Linked DNA regions of Homo sapiens. The protein of the gene in region 1 purifies or fractionates together with the protein of each later gene. This does not show direct contact. Each region holds a gene or a part of one and is shown on either strand. Other genes may lie near its edges.

Evidence for each region. Proteins that work in one complex are often made in the same cells at the same time.
Region 2: the proteins of SAMHD1 (region 1) and ABCF2 purify together in Homo sapiens (affinity purification with mass spectrometry, with the first as the bait; one large-scale study listed by BioGRID). This does not show direct contact.
Region 3: the proteins of SAMHD1 (region 1) and PLOD2 fractionate together in Homo sapiens (co-fractionation; one large-scale study listed by BioGRID). This does not show direct contact.
Region 4: the proteins of SAMHD1 (region 1) and OAT purify together in Homo sapiens (affinity purification with mass spectrometry, with the first as the bait; one large-scale study listed by BioGRID). This does not show direct contact.

What each region holds. Positions count from the first base shown.
Region 1 is NC_000020.11:36,948,909-36,953,107, reverse strand, and holds the start of SAMHD1 (deoxynucleoside triphosphate triphosphohydrolase SAMHD1), read left to right. Parts: upstream 1-1,399; 5' UTR 1,400-1,464; coding exon 1,465-1,672; intron 1,673-4,199.
Region 2 is NC_000007.14:151,217,206-151,220,705, forward strand, and holds part of ABCF2 (ATP-binding cassette sub-family F member 2), read right to left. Parts: intron 1,955-3,500; coding exon 1,859-1,954; intron 1,669-1,858; coding exon 1,549-1,668; intron 1,446-1,548; coding exon 1,356-1,445; intron 987-1,355; coding exon 876-986; intron 1-875. Other genes in the region: ABCF2-H2BK1 (ABCF2-H2B protein), read right to left, coding at 876-986, 1,356-1,445, 1,549-1,668, 1,859-1,954.
Region 3 is NC_000003.12:146,081,185-146,084,684, reverse strand, and holds part of PLOD2 (procollagen-lysine,2-oxoglutarate 5-dioxygenase 2 isoform 1 precursor), read left to right. Parts: intron 1-2,821; coding exon 2,822-2,947; intron 2,948-3,500. UniProt on the Homo sapiens protein: Forms hydroxylysine residues in -Xaa-Lys-Gly- sequences in collagens. These hydroxylysines serve as sites of attachment for carbohydrate units and are essential for the stability of the intermolecular collagen cross-links.
Region 4 is NC_000010.11:124,412,424-124,415,923, reverse strand, and holds part of OAT (ornithine aminotransferase, mitochondrial isoform 1 precursor), read left to right. Parts: intron 1-851; exon of another isoform or gene 852-971; intron 972-1,491; exon of another isoform or gene 1,492-1,806; intron 1,807-3,500. UniProt on the Homo sapiens protein: Catalyzes the reversible interconversion of L-ornithine and 2-oxoglutarate to L-glutamate semialdehyde and L-glutamate.

The DNA of each region.
Region 1 (4,199 bases):
TGAGGTCAGGAGTTCAAGACCAGCCTGGCCAACATGGTGAAATCCTGTCTCTACTAAAAATACAAAAATTAGCCAGGTGTGGTGGCAGGCGCCTGTAGTCCCAGCTACTTGGGAGTCTGAGGCATGAGAATCACTTGAACCTGGGAGGCAGAGGTTGCAGTGAGCTGAGATCACGCCACTGCACTCCAGCTTGGGAAACAGAGCAAGACTCCGTCTCAAAAAAAAAAAAGAAGACCTGCGGCAAATTACTTTTTCCTACATCCTAAGGTAATTGTGATAATTAAGTGAAGTAATATGTGTAGAGCCCTTAGAACTTTACAATATTTGTAAAACCCTTAGAAGTTATAAAAATTATTTAATATTTAAATAATTTAATGAATGTACTTAATTCATTTAGTATTATGTATAAATATAAAATTATTTTATATTTGTAAAGCCCTTAGAACCGTGCCTGGCACACAGTAAAGCTCTGTTTGCAAATAATATTTTGGCTCACCAGTAGACCACTAGTTCATACTGCTTGATGATAAGCTATTCCGCCTCATTCGTCCTTGACCCCCTAAACAGGTCTATGCCTTGGTTGCTGGGAAGGTGTGTTGGCTTTATTAACAGTAATAGTGATATGTCCTTTTACCAGGCAATTGCATGGACCAGTATTTATAGGGAAGTTTGAGCCCTGCCGCAGAGGGGTTAAGTGATGGGAAAATGCCTGCCATTTTCACATGCTGTTACAACCAGGCAGTAAAAGTCCTCAGAAGTTAAATTTTAAGTAATCAGACTGGCCACTTTCCTTCCTCTGGGAATGCAGTTGGGATGGAGGGCTCTGTCTCTAGTTGGAAAGAAGTCTGAAGTCCCCTCCTGTGTGGACACCAGACAACAGGTATCCCAGGGCCCTCTAGTTGACCAGCAATACTGTGGAATGAAGACACCCTCAAGTCACATTTGAAATCATTCCGGGTTCTTCCAGTTCAGCACCTTGACTGTTTTCCTCTTCACTGGGAAGGTGCTGGCAGCCTGACGGCCTTTTAGGCTTCTTTTAAGTTTGGGGCATCTGAAACCCGGCCAAGGTGCGGCGGGTAGTGTACTCATTCGAAGGAGAATACCCCCAATTCACTAGACGAGCCCCTAATTGGGGGTGCGGTGCCGGGCGCGCTCTTTCCTCCCCCTTTCCACCAGCACTGCCCTCAGTTCTGCTTCTAGCCACGCCCTTTCGCGTTCACGTCCAGCGCCCTGGCGGGATTGATTTGAGGACGACTGGACTGCCATTGCGCCTGCGCAGGGAGCCCAAGGCAAGAGCCGCTAGGCTGCCCTGCCCGAAGGGCTCAACTGTCAGTGAGCCTGCGCAGGAGGCCAATAGGCTGCCAATACTCCTTGGACTCCCCGCCAGGGCCCTGCTGTCAGTGCGCCTGCGCGCGGGTCCGGCGCCGAGGTTCTTGACTGCTGTGCCGGACGCCAGGTGTAGCCATGCAGCGAGCCGATTCCGAGCAGCCCTCCAAGCGTCCCCGTTGCGATGACAGCCCGAGAACCCCCTCAAACACCCCTTCCGCAGAGGCAGACTGGTCCCCGGGCCTGGAACTCCATCCCGACTACAAGACATGGGGTCCGGAGCAGGTGTGCTCCTTCCTCAGGCGCGGTGGCTTTGAAGAGCCGGTGCTGCTGAAGAACATCCGAGGTAGCGGCTCCGGAGGGGCTGAGGGGCGAAGGGCGGCGACCTGGGGCGCGGGCCAGGCGCCCTGAGGGAGGGGGCCCCACGAGAGGACCGAGGCCGAGGAGCGAGCCCTGCGGCGGGAGGCACCCGGGAGGGCGGACCTGCGCTGGGGGCGCCGAGGAAAGGAAGACCCGAGGCGGGGGAGGGAGCCCTGCGGCGGGGGTTCCCAGGAGGGCCTGCGGCATGGGGCTCCCGGGACTGACTCCCCGAGGCGGAGGAAGAAGACATGGGGTCGCCTGGGATAGGCGATTCGTAGGATGGGAGCAGGCTCCCGGGATTGAGGACCTGGGAGGGGCAGTCGTAGATTGGGATCTCACTCTCGTGGGTTTCTTCACTAACTTGCCACCCCGGCGCGGGACAAGCGAGACTCGGGTCCCTTTTTTTTAGTTAGAAGGAGATTTTTCCCCAGACCTTGGTGGGCGGCTTGCTGTCATCCAGGCTCGCGGGACCCCTCCGCGCTAACCGCAGCTCCTTGAACACTTGCCACATCAGAGGATGTTCTGGGGCTTTTAGGTTTCGGTTTCCTCCCTGAATTGAGGCTTTTCCTGAAGGGGAAGGAACTGGCTTGGTTAATCTCTGAATTCCCATCACCTTCCTTGGCATCCCAGCAGCGCCCGATAGGCGTGTGTTGACTGCACTTGCAGAACATGGTAAGGAACATGTTTTGCTCTTTAAAAGCAGGTTCCCCTCCAAAATCTGAACCTTGGGGTTGTTCAGTTGACCACTGAATCCCCAGCATGCCACAGTTTGGCCACATCCCCTGGAGAAGTGTTTAGGTTGAGTTTTAATCATATTTTACTGATTCGTATCCAAGCATCCATCCTTGTGAATTCTACTCAACTTTTTGTGGTGGGTGTGAGATTTGACTCCTGCCTTATATCCTCTAGGTGTCCAATAGGAAGGTGATTCTTTGGTGGTTGGGATTTGCAAATTTAGTAAATTTTTGCATTTGTTAGGTGGGGCCCTGTTTGGCTAGGTTGGAAACTGGGGTAGGAGGAACATTAGTGGTTCAGGACCCAAAGATAGCTTGAATGGGTATGGGAAATTGCATTTCTCCTTTTTTTTTTTTCTTCCCCCTTTTGCCCTTTCGTTTCCCTCCACTGCTGGGATGGATTATTACTTTATTTTCTTTGACTAGCAACAAGTGGAGTGAAGTAGTTCCATATTTTCTGTCTCAAAATGTGGTTGGCTCTCTGTTTCAGTGGTTTGTAGATTAACTCGTTACCCTCCAGAATGATGTGTGTTCCTTAAACCTACAACCTATTGCTATCAAAGACACTATGTGCTTTCATTTGGTAAAAACTGACCAACTGTTCCCAATTGCTCATGTCTTAGCTTCTGCTTTGTCTTGACCAAACTTTATTCGGACTTCTCTCTTCCCTTATGGGCCCCTCAACTCTTGCTTACCCCCAGATCTGACCAGGCAGGCACTAAAGCAGTGGAATATGCCTCCCTCTGGTCAGTTTCTTTTGAGAACCGGCTGACCACAGTAGGATGCTGTCCTGTTGGGCTACACTGCTCATTTTCCCTTGCTCGTCCAGGTTCCTATCCAAAGATTCTGCTTATTTCTGCTTGCCCGTCCTTTATCATATAAAAGAAGACCCTTTTTCTGTTGGATTCTTTTTTTTTTTTTTTTTTTTTTTTGAGACAGAGTCTCGCTCTGTCGCCAGGCTGGAGTGCAGTGGCGCCATCTCGGCCCAGTGCAACCTCTAACTGCCTGGTTCAAGCTATTCTCCTGCCTCAGCCTCCCGAGTAGCTGGGATTACAGGCATGTGCCACCACGCCCAGCTAATTTTTTTGTATTTTTAGTAGAGATGGGGTTTCACCATGTTGGCCAGGATGGTCTCCATCTCCTGAACTCGTGATCCGCCTGCCTCAGCCTCCCAAAGTGCTGGGATTACAGGCGTGAGCCACCGCGCCCGGCCTCATTTTTTTTTTTTTTTTAATTAGAGACAGGGTTTTGCCATGTTGGCCAGGCTGGTCTCAAACTCTTGGCTTCGAGTGACCATCCACCCACCTCGGCCTCCTAAAGTGCTGGGATTACAAGTGTGAGCCACCATGCCCAACCTCTGTTTGGTTCTTGGGCCTCTGTTTGATTATTTTTTAAAATTTATTTTATTATTTTATTTTTTTTCTGAGATGGAGTCTCGCTCTGTCACGCAGGCTGAAGTGCACCGGCACAATCTCAGCTCACTGCAACCTCTGCCTCTCGGGTTCAAGTGGTTCTCCTGCCTCAGCCTCCCTAGTTGCTGGGATTACAGGTGCACGCCACCACGCCTGGCTAATTTTGTGTTTTTAGTAAAGACAGGGTTTCACCATGTTGGCCAGGCTGGTCTCCAACTCCTGTCCTCAGGTGATGCATCCGCCTCTGCCTCCCAAAGTGCTGGGATTACAGGCGTGAGCCACCGCGCCCGGCCGGCCTATGTGTTTGATTCCTGAGCCTCTTGCAGATATCTGATATTGGAGCTTTCTCCCTGTAGAAATAGTCTTT
Region 2 (3,500 bases), on another chromosome or scaffold:
CAGCCCTGAAGAGGACACCATTCCATTATAGGATGCACTCACACACCCGCACTCATTCAGACTGGAACCACTGAGACGTTCCAAGTAACCTGACAGGTGCAGCTTTGGAATTGGGAAGAAACTGAAGTACCAGAGAAAACCCATGTAGACGTTAAAGGGAAAGTGCAAACTCCACAAAGACAGTGGCCCCAGCTGGGAATCATTTCTATTTTTCATCAATATTAATGAAATGACATTACTTGAGAACCTGCAGCATCCCTAAATGCACAGATGTTCCTATATTCTAAATGCTCTGATTGAAAATAGAAACATGGGCCAGACGCGGTGGCTCACGCCTGTAATCCCAGCACTTTGGGAGGCCGAGGTGGGCAGATCATGAGGTCAGGAGTTCAAGACCAGCCTAATGAACATGGTGAAACCCCATCTCTACTAAAATACAAAAAAATTAGCTGTGGCGTGTGCCTGTAATCCCAGCTACTTGGGAGGCTGAGGCAGGAGAATTGCTTGAACTCGGGGGATGAAGGTTGCGGTGAGCTGAGATCGCACATTGCACTCCAGCCTGGGCAACAGAGCGAGACTCCACCTCAAAAAAAAAAAAAGAAAATAGAAACGTGCTTAAACACATACATGTATTCACACACACACTCTAAGACTCCTCCCTACCTATCCCTGTCCCAGGAAAACAGCCCCCAGCCTCAGCACTGTCCAACCAGACATTCCCCCTCTCCTGGCTGCTGCTCCACCCCTCCAGATGGCTCACTCACCACCAGGGTACTCAGGCCCTCCCAAAGTAGTAGCCCCTGCATCACTCCCCTCTTCCTTAACCATCGCAAGGCCTAATCTTAGAGGGATCCACGCCCACCTTGGCACCATACCTCTCCAGTTAGCAGCTTCAGAAGAGTTGACTTCCCTGCTCCATTGGGCCCTACCAGAGCCACTCGTGTGTCAAGGTCAATTCCAAATTCTAGATTATTGTAGATGCAAGGCTGAGGTGGGGATGAGAGAGATGTGGACACAAGGCTAGAATACAGATCTGCTATGACCAGCAGACCAAGCCCGCTGAATTCCCAGTCACCAAGAGAGGAGGAAGGGAGAGTAGCGGGAGGAAGCACTCATAGCAGACCCCGCCTCGCCCACTGCCTCCGCCCACCAACCCAGCTGAGTAGTCTTCTTTCCATATACACGAAGAAAGGCCCGCGAGCAGCCTTGGATGAGGCACCCCAGCTGCCACACCTGAAAATCCCCCAGAGCACGTGGGCTAGCAGGTGTGGTCAGCACAGAACAGGAGCAACTCCCATGAGCTGCCACTCACCCTAAGATACACCCCAGCCACCCATGCCCTGCCCTGAACTTACCCCATCTTTTGTATACTTGAAGCTCACATTTTGCACCATAATGACAGGTGGAGGGATCTTGCCACATGGTGGGAAATAAAATGACAGTGTCTAGGAAGAAAAGAGGGCATTTATCAAGTTGGCTCCTTTCTTATCCACCTCACCTTAGGCCACCCAACCCCACCCAATCACACCCCACCCAATCACACCCCACCTTATCGCTCACGACCCTCTCTGTCAGTCCTGATGCCATCATTTTCTGTAGCGTCTTCTCCTTGCTCTGGGCCTGCCGGGCCAGCTTGGCACTGCCATGACCAAACCTCGCAATGTAGTTCTAAAAAAGACCAAAGAGAGCTTGGAGTATGTGCAGGCGCTCAACAATTCATCTTCAATCCAGGGTAAAAATGTTGATCGTAACTTCTTCCCGACATCCTCCATCACTACCGCTTCTCGAAATGCCCTCATCCGAGCCCCCTGCTTCTTTCAGACAGGAGGCCATGAGCCTGACTCTGCAGTCTCCCTACCTTCATGTGTGCAATCTGATCTTGCTCCCAGTGAAACCTCTTCATCTGGTTCTCCTCCAGCTCTAGCCGCGTCTTCACGTACTGATCATAATTACCCTGCATGGAAATGTGCCAGGTAAGGCAGGCAGCTTTAACCTGGGTTTCAATCCTGGATTCTCACTCAGAGTTTAGGGGGATGAGGGATGGCACTAACTTGGCCCTGGCTCTAAGGCTGTGCAGTAAGAAGAGAGGACGTGCATTACAGAAGCATATCCTAACATCAAATCGGAGTCTTTTCAATTCTATGCCCCTCGCTCAGCCCAGCCAGGGCCAGGCTCCAGCGCAAATCCTTAGGTTAGCTAGAAAGACACCTGTGGCACTGGGAATAGTCCTGAAAATCACGGTCATACGGACGTCACGAGGCTCAGAGCCTTCCAATACCACCTCCTATTCCTTCCCCGTTCCCTAGAGGCTGAAGCCCCACAAAAGACTGCAAGAGCTGTCTCCAGAGGGGAAAACAGACCATTCAGATTTAGAAGCTGACAAACCCTGCATAAGTGGACTACCATGGTTTCTATCTGCAAACAAAAACTGGACTCAAGCTAAATATCCACCAGAAAGGGCCTAACAAGTTACAGGATAAACACATAACGAAATACTATGCAGTGACTGAAAAGATTGTGATTGATTTATATATACTCACATGGAAAGCAGTCCAAAATATACTAAATTTAAAAAAGCAACCTACAGAATGATTATTAAAATTGTAACTGTGGCCAGGTGCAGTGGCTCACACCTGTAATTCCAGCACTTTGGGAGGCTGAGGTGGGTGGATCACTTGAGGCCAGGAGTTTGACAGCAGCCTAGCCAACATGGCGAAACCCCGTCTCTACTAAAAATATAAAAATTAGCTGGGTATGGTGGCATGTGCCTGTGGTCTCAGCTACTTGGGAGGGTGAGGTGGGAGGATCGCTTGAACCTGGGAGGCAGAAGTTGCAGTGAGCCAATATCACGCCACTGGACTCCAGCCTGGGTGACAGAGACAGACCCCATCTCGAGAAAAAAGAGGCCGGGTGCGGTGGCTCACGCCTGTAATCCCAGCACTTTGGGAGGCCGAGGCAGGCGGATCATGAGGTCAAGAGAGGGAGACCATCCTGGCCAATATGGTGAACCCCATCTCTACTAAAAATACAAAAATTAGCTGGGTGTGGTGGCATGCGCCTGTAGTCCCAGCTACTCAGGAAGCCGAGGCAGGAGAGTCCCTTGAACCTGGGAGGTGGAGGTTGCAGTGAGCCCAGATCGCGCCACTGCACTCCAGCCTGGCGACGGAGCAAGACTCCAGCTCAAAAAAAAAAAAAAAAAAAAGCTGCAATTGTATAAAAAGAAAAAGATTACGTATACATGACATTTTCTACAAATGTGTGCAAGTATACATGAAGTTTCTGGAAGGCTATATTATAAACTAATACTCCTATGACTATGAATGAAGAGGACATCAATCGTTAGTTTCTTACATGCTTTTTGAAATATAAAATGAAAAGGCAAGGCACAACAGTGGGCTATTGAGATCCTGACCCCCATTCTCCTGTGGTCATGGGAGGTGGGGTAAATGTGTAGACTCCAGTGAAGCAGAATTAAGAAGGCATTCAAGAAGGCAGAGGGA
Region 3 (3,500 bases), on another chromosome or scaffold:
AACTCAATTGAAATGGGAAAAAGACACCATGTATATCAGCTTACAATGATACTAAGTTTGTTTGTCAATACTACTGCTAATACTAATAATACCATTTTTACTACTCCTGCTAAGACCTCACCTTTAACAAGTGCTTATTAAGTGCCAGGTATTGTTGTAAGTACATGTATTAACACAATTATTTCTCATAATAAATAGAATGTTTAGCGGGTGAAATGTTAGAATGATTGTTTTTATTTTGTTAAGTAAGATACATGGGAAATGTAGTATGCTTTATTAACCCACCCTATATATAATATCTATCTATATATATATATCACTAGAATTTGTAAATTTGAGAATTTAGTTCTTACTTCAAAAATCTAAGACCTCTCTGTAGCAACCTGTATATACAGCCCAACTGTATAGCTGTGTTATAGATACTCAGTATCTAAGTTAACTATCTATATACATCGTAGGTAATTTTCCAAAGCATATGAATGAGGTTTTGATCATTTGGCAAGGAAAAGCAGTTGTGACACCCTAGAGATATGAAATAGTGTATGATTTGTAACTCTTAAAACCTAGTTTAATTCAGTACTATTTTCTTGAATTTGCATTGTTTTCTCTTAATTTGATTGAAATGCTATAGTGTGTAATGCCCATATGCTTTTTAATAATTAGATATTTTCATTTTATGACTATAATTTATATATTTATTAATTATTCTCTTAGTGAACTATTTAATGAATTTACACTATGTATTTGACATATATCCCTCTTAATATTAAACATTTTAAATCTTCTAAAAGAAAAAAAATTCCCGGCCGGGTGTGGTGGCTCACGCCTGTAATCCCAGCACTTTGGGAGGCCAAGGTGGGTGGATCACGAGGTCAGGAGATCGAGATCATCCTGGCTAACACAGTGAAACGCCATCTCTACTAAAAATACAAAAAATTAGCCGGGCGTGGTAGCGGGCACCTGTAGTCCCAGCTACTCGGGAAGCTGAGGCAGGAGAATGGTGTGAACCCAGGAGGTGGAGCTGGCAGTGAGCCAAGATTGCGCCACTGCACTCTAGCCTGGGCGACACAGCGAGACTCCGTCTCAAAAAAAAAAAAAAAAAAAAAAGAAAAAGACTTACCTGCCATCTGGGGCCCTTGCCCCTTAAAGAGTAAAACTCAGGCTGTGTCTCCATGGAATTCTGTTAGTTAATCAAAGGTTTAGGTTTATGTAATACCTATGGTTCTTGCTTCTGTATCTAGACATGTGGTTTCTATAGTCTATTGACATATGCCAGGAATGTTGCAAGATTTAGTAGATTGGACTGAAGAGTAGAGAAAGAGATTTGACACATCTTGGGCATGTGGCTTTCTACCTTCTCATCAGCTCTCTTTTTTCCTCTTCTCTCCCTATCTCTATTTGCTCCCTTGCTCTAAATTTTACTCCTTAAATTGTATAATAATATGAATCATTCCTCAGCTGCCATCCTTACATTTTTATTCACAAAAACATTGAGGTATACAGCAGATGAATTTTGGTTTCCCAAATTTGTTGGTTTAAACCTTTTCAGGAGGCAGCTGGGATTATAAATTACAAGTTCTTTTTAAATTAAATGTTTGATATTCATATTGAATTATTTCCCAAATTAATGTATGTAGATTCTAATTCATGTTATTATTTCCAGTATTGTAGGTATTCAAAACAAAACAAAACATGTGTTTCTGATTAATAGTTTAGTAGGAATTCGGAAGAATAAACCAAAATTTATTATTTTGCATGATGTGTATTTATTTTTATTTATTTATTTTTTTGAGATGGAGTCTTGCTCTGTCGCCCAGGCTGGAGTGCAGTGGCATGATCTTGGCTCACTGCAACCTCCGCCTCCCGGGTTCAAGCGATTCTCCTGTGTCAGCCTCTTGATTAGCTGGGATTATAGGTGCGTGCCACCATGCCTGGCTAACTTTTTTTGGTATTATTAGTAGAGATGGGATTTCACCATGTTGGTCAGGCTGGTCTCAAACTCCTGACCTTGTGATCCGCCCGCCTCGGCTTCCCAAAGTGCTGGGATTACAGGCATGAGCCACTGCGCCGGGCCCGATGTGTGTTTATTTATTTCACTTTTGTGCATGTAATAGAAAGGGCCCGGCTGGTCTTCACAAGATAGAGGTGAAATAGGTTTTCTTTTTTCATATAAAGAATAGTTGTTCCATAAATTTGCTTTCTAAAATAGTTAAAGGAAAGTTCAGTGTTGCCAGGACTAGCTTACTGTAATCACAAGTCATTTTTTAAAGTCATGGAAAACTGGAAACATACTTAAGTAATTTGAGACTTAATTACAGGAAAGCTTTGCCTGTTTACAAACATCTCAGTTCATCTTCATTCATTTTTTACAAATTCAACAAATATTCATTGAATATCTTAAATGCACCAGGGGCTGTTGTTCACCCAGTGACAATGAAAATATTTGGTTTCATTTAATATAGGTTCCGAAATACTTTAGTTAAACTTAAATATAATTAAATAACTAAAGTAGTTTCCCTCTGTTGGATGTAAGCAAGGCATTTTTAAAAGTCATTTTTATGTATTCATTAGCATTTTCAATTACTTTTTCCTTCTTTGTTACTCTTTTTAAGAAATATGATTGAAAATTAGCAATATACTTACTTAAGAAAAGATGTTGGGAAAGAAGATCCTTATTTTATTTTTATTAACTACAGGTTTGTTGAATGAGCTTTCTTGTGTTATATGTCATACTAAGCCCAAAATACATAATTCTGTGGTAATTTAAAAATAAATAATTATATAGGTTTCTCTCTCTCACACACACTCTCTCTGTCTTTAGAAAGATCATTGCTCCTCTTGTAACTCGTCATGGAAAGCTGTGGTCCAATTTCTGGGGAGCATTGAGTCCTGATGGATACTATGCACGATCTGAAGATTATGTGGATATTGTTCAAGGGAATAGAGTGTAAGTTACTTGGTTTAATATTTTAATGTGAAATACCATAATCTAAAGATGTAGTCTTGTTAGTATTACTTGAAATTTTTTTTGCATTCATCTCTTTTCTTTATAGTTAATGGGAATTTGAGAACCCAAGACCACTTGGAATCCTGAAATACTAGTATAAAACTAATATCTTAAAAAAATGTTTTTAAAGTCCCAAATCTTCAAAGGAACAAGCTCATTGCTGTGGGGAATACTAAGAGATAATATATGTTTACCATACTCACATTATGGTTGATAGAAGAGTAATACTCTTTATTTAAAAGCTTGGAAAGGGGATTTAGTTTACTAACTTTTTAATGGTTATAATTAAGGGTTGTTTTGATAGGTTTTAAAATTTATAATTAAGCCAACAGTAACACTAACAGCCAGAACATTCCAGTATTCCTGATTGCATGAGTTTTTTTGTGTGAAATAGCTATTATTCTGCTTTAAATACAAGTTTTTTTTACCAATATTAGATTTTCACTTCTAGAGATTGAAAAGAATATATTTGCTGAAAAGTGTGTGCATGATT
Region 4 (3,500 bases), on another chromosome or scaffold:
AAAAATAAATCATGGCACTGTTGATTCTGATATTTCAGAAACTGGCTAGTTTTAAGGGCAAAAGGGAACTGAGTGGCCATTTTGTGCTGGATTTGGCACAGTAACATTAACCCATTTCATCCTCAGTGACACTTCAACCTCCTTTTACAAATGGGGAGACTGAAGCTCAGAAAGATTGACAGAATCACCCAGAGTTACTCTTCAGAACCACAGACAGAATTTAAAATCCCGGTCTCCAAACTCGGGATTTTCCGCTTGATTCTCCCGGTTTTGAAACCTTTTTGGAAGAGGCTGTTATTGATGTTGGCTATTTTTAAGTCCATCTTAATTCTGCTCTAAGATTTCTCATACAGTGCCAAGCACAGTAACTTGAACACAGAAGGTTCTTTAATAGAAATGCGTTTACAGGATTTTGATACATCATGGCTCATCCAGTTTCTGACCTTTCCCAGTTGAATTAAATATCCAGAATTCATCTTAAAAACCTTAAGAATAGCTGACTCAGGGGTGTGTGCCTGTAGTCCCACCTCTTCCTGAGGCTGAGGCAGAAGGATCCCTTGAGCCCAGGTGTTCGAGGCCAACCTGGGCAACATAGCTGAGACTCCATCTGTAAGTGAAAAGAAACAAAAACCTTAAGAATGAGTATTAGTAATGTTTTGAATGATATTATTTTGTCCCCAGTTATTCTTTAATAAAACTGCCTAAACTTAACAGGTAAATGAATTTTTCATCCCATTTCTGTTGGAAATTAGCTGTGCAGATAACTTTTATATAAAATAAGAATGTTGAATTTAGATAATCTCTGATATTCCTTTTTTTTTTTTTTTTTTTTTTTTTTTTTTTTTTTTTAGCGCTTTGTAGCCCAGGCTGGAGTGCTGGTGGCACAGATCGTGGCTCACTGCAGCCCAGAACTCAGGGCTCAAGAGATCTTTCCACCTTAGTCTTAGTCTCCTAAGTACCAGATACTACAGGTACGCATCGCCACACCTGGCTAATATTCATATTTTTTATAGAGATGGGGTCTCCCTATGTTGCCCAGGTTGATCTTTAACTCCTGGGCTCAAGTGATCTGCCTTGGCCTCCCAAAGCGCTGGGATTATAGGCGTGAGCCACCTTGCCTGGCCCTAGAAAGTTGTTACGGTTTAGAGCACCACTAAGTATTGCCTGAGTGTTTTACTGCTAATTTGATAGGCAAAAATTAATGTTCTAATTTTTTAGTTGATCAAACAATTTATTCATACTGAGTAAAGCATAAAGAGTCCAAGAAAGAAATCATACATGAGTGTTTTAGACTTAGCAGTAGTATTTTGGGGAAGTTACATATAGTACAGTTAGACATTTTTGCTAGCAGCTACCTCCAGTTGGATGATTCTTACATCACTTTTGTTTTGATTGTTGGTACCCACCCCTTTGAGATAAAGTCTGATGAAAGTTATGGACCTTCTTCTTGGAAAAATATACGTCTGCATGTAATTCTGCATTTTATTTCAGGAGATTTTGGACTCTCTGCAGACTGTCCCTGGATCTTGGGTTAAAAATCTGTATTCTAGACTGAACCGTGGGAAGAAAAAATAGTCAGTGAGTCTTTGGCAAACCGGAGTACTGGATTTTGTTTAGCAATTGCAAATTCCTGAACATACTGGATTTACTGGGTAGTGCCAAGTTTAAAGGGAAGTAAGCCAAACTCCAAGTATTATGTTTTGCTAATTTGGCAGCTCGAATCAAGAGTGGCTGTGAGATTATACATGGTTTGACTTGTCATTGGTAGACTTCTGTTGAAACATGAATTAACTAGTCTTTTAGAAAGTAAGTATAGATGGAATAAGTATGCCTAGTTTTTGGCAACTTTCTCCTAATCATGAATTTATCTTTAAGCTTTTTTTTTTTTTTTCCTTCCAGAGGTGATTCCTATGCACATGCTCTAATTTCCTTTTAATTATTAGTTTCTTTCATAGCTTAGTTTTTACTTCATGGCTTATCAGGATGCTTAATGGTAAATTGGGTACAAAGAGGTGTGTGAAGCCTTGTGGAGGGGCTAGTTTTAGGGCTGGGGGTGACTGGGGAGAGTAGCTATGGCTCTGACTTATGTGATGGGGCGGCAGGGTAAACACCAGCCTGCTCAGTGATGTTTAGACTTTAACACTCATACAAGTAACGGATTGTAGTTTGTAGTTTGACTCTCTCTAGTTTCTCAGTTACCTTTTGCTAACAATAGCTTTTTCGTTTGTTTGTTTGTTTTTTGAGACGGAGTTTCACTCTTGTTGCTCAGGCTGGAGTGCAATGCGCAGTCTTGGCTCACTGCAGCCTCGTCCTCCCAAGTTCAAGCGATTCTCCTGCCTTAGCCTCCTGAGTCGCTGGGATTACAGGCATGCACCACCACGCCTGGCTAATTTTGTATTTTCAGTAGAGACGGGGTTTCTCCATGTTGGTCAGGCTGGTCTCGAACTCCCGATTCAGGTGATCGCCTGCCTCTGCCACCCAAAGTGCTGGGATTATAGGCATGAGTCACCGCACCTGGTCAACAATATCTTTTATGCTACAATTTTTCAGGATAAGTTTTGTAGAAACAACCATCCTAGCAGAATAGATTGTTTTGTTTGGGAATCTCATATATGTGTGTGTGTGTGTGTGTGTGTGTGTGTGTGTGTGTGTGTGTATGTATTTATGTATGTATGTATATGTTGGTCTAATTCAACTTGCTGTGAACACTTTAAAGCTATTATAAGTTAACATTTTTTTCCTAGTCTTTTTGCCTTTCACCTTTGTTTATGATAAATTTGACCTACAGAAGTTTTAGATATTTGTGGCTAAATAAAAGATTTTAGGCTGGGCACAGTGGCTCACACCTTTAATTCGAAAACTTTGGGAGGCCGTGGTGGGCGGACTGCTTGAGCCCAGAGGGATGGACAGTTCCTCTGTCTCCTGCCCCATGCCTAGTCTCTGGCAGTCTTCTCTGATTTGGTCTCCCTGCCTCTGGTCTCTGCCCTACAGTTGTAGCTGTCTCATAGCATTGTGCCTGATGGTATCGGACTGTGGTAGGTGCTTAACAAATACTTAGTGTTTAGCAGGTACTCAGTCAACACACAGTGCATTAGCTCTGGAAAGAGTCTTACTCTTATTGATTGGTTGGTTGATTGATTGCCTGATTGACAGGGTATCACTCTGTTGCCCAGGCTGGCCTCAAACTCTTGGGCTCAAGTGATCCTCCCGCCTCAGCCTCCTGAGCAGCTGGGGGCTACAGGCACAAACCACCACACCTGACTCAAGATTCTCACTCTTTTTTTTTCTTTTATAGAGACTATGTTGCCTAGGCTGGTCTTTAACTCCTCGGCTCAAGCGATCCTCCCATCTTGGCCTCCCAAGGTGCTGGAATTACAGATGTGAGCTATCACGCCTGGCCATTTTTTTTTTCTTGAGACTGGGCCTTTCTTTGTCTCCCAGGTTGGAGTACAGTGGCACAATCTCAGCTCACTGCAGCCTCAACTTCCGGGCTCAAGCAA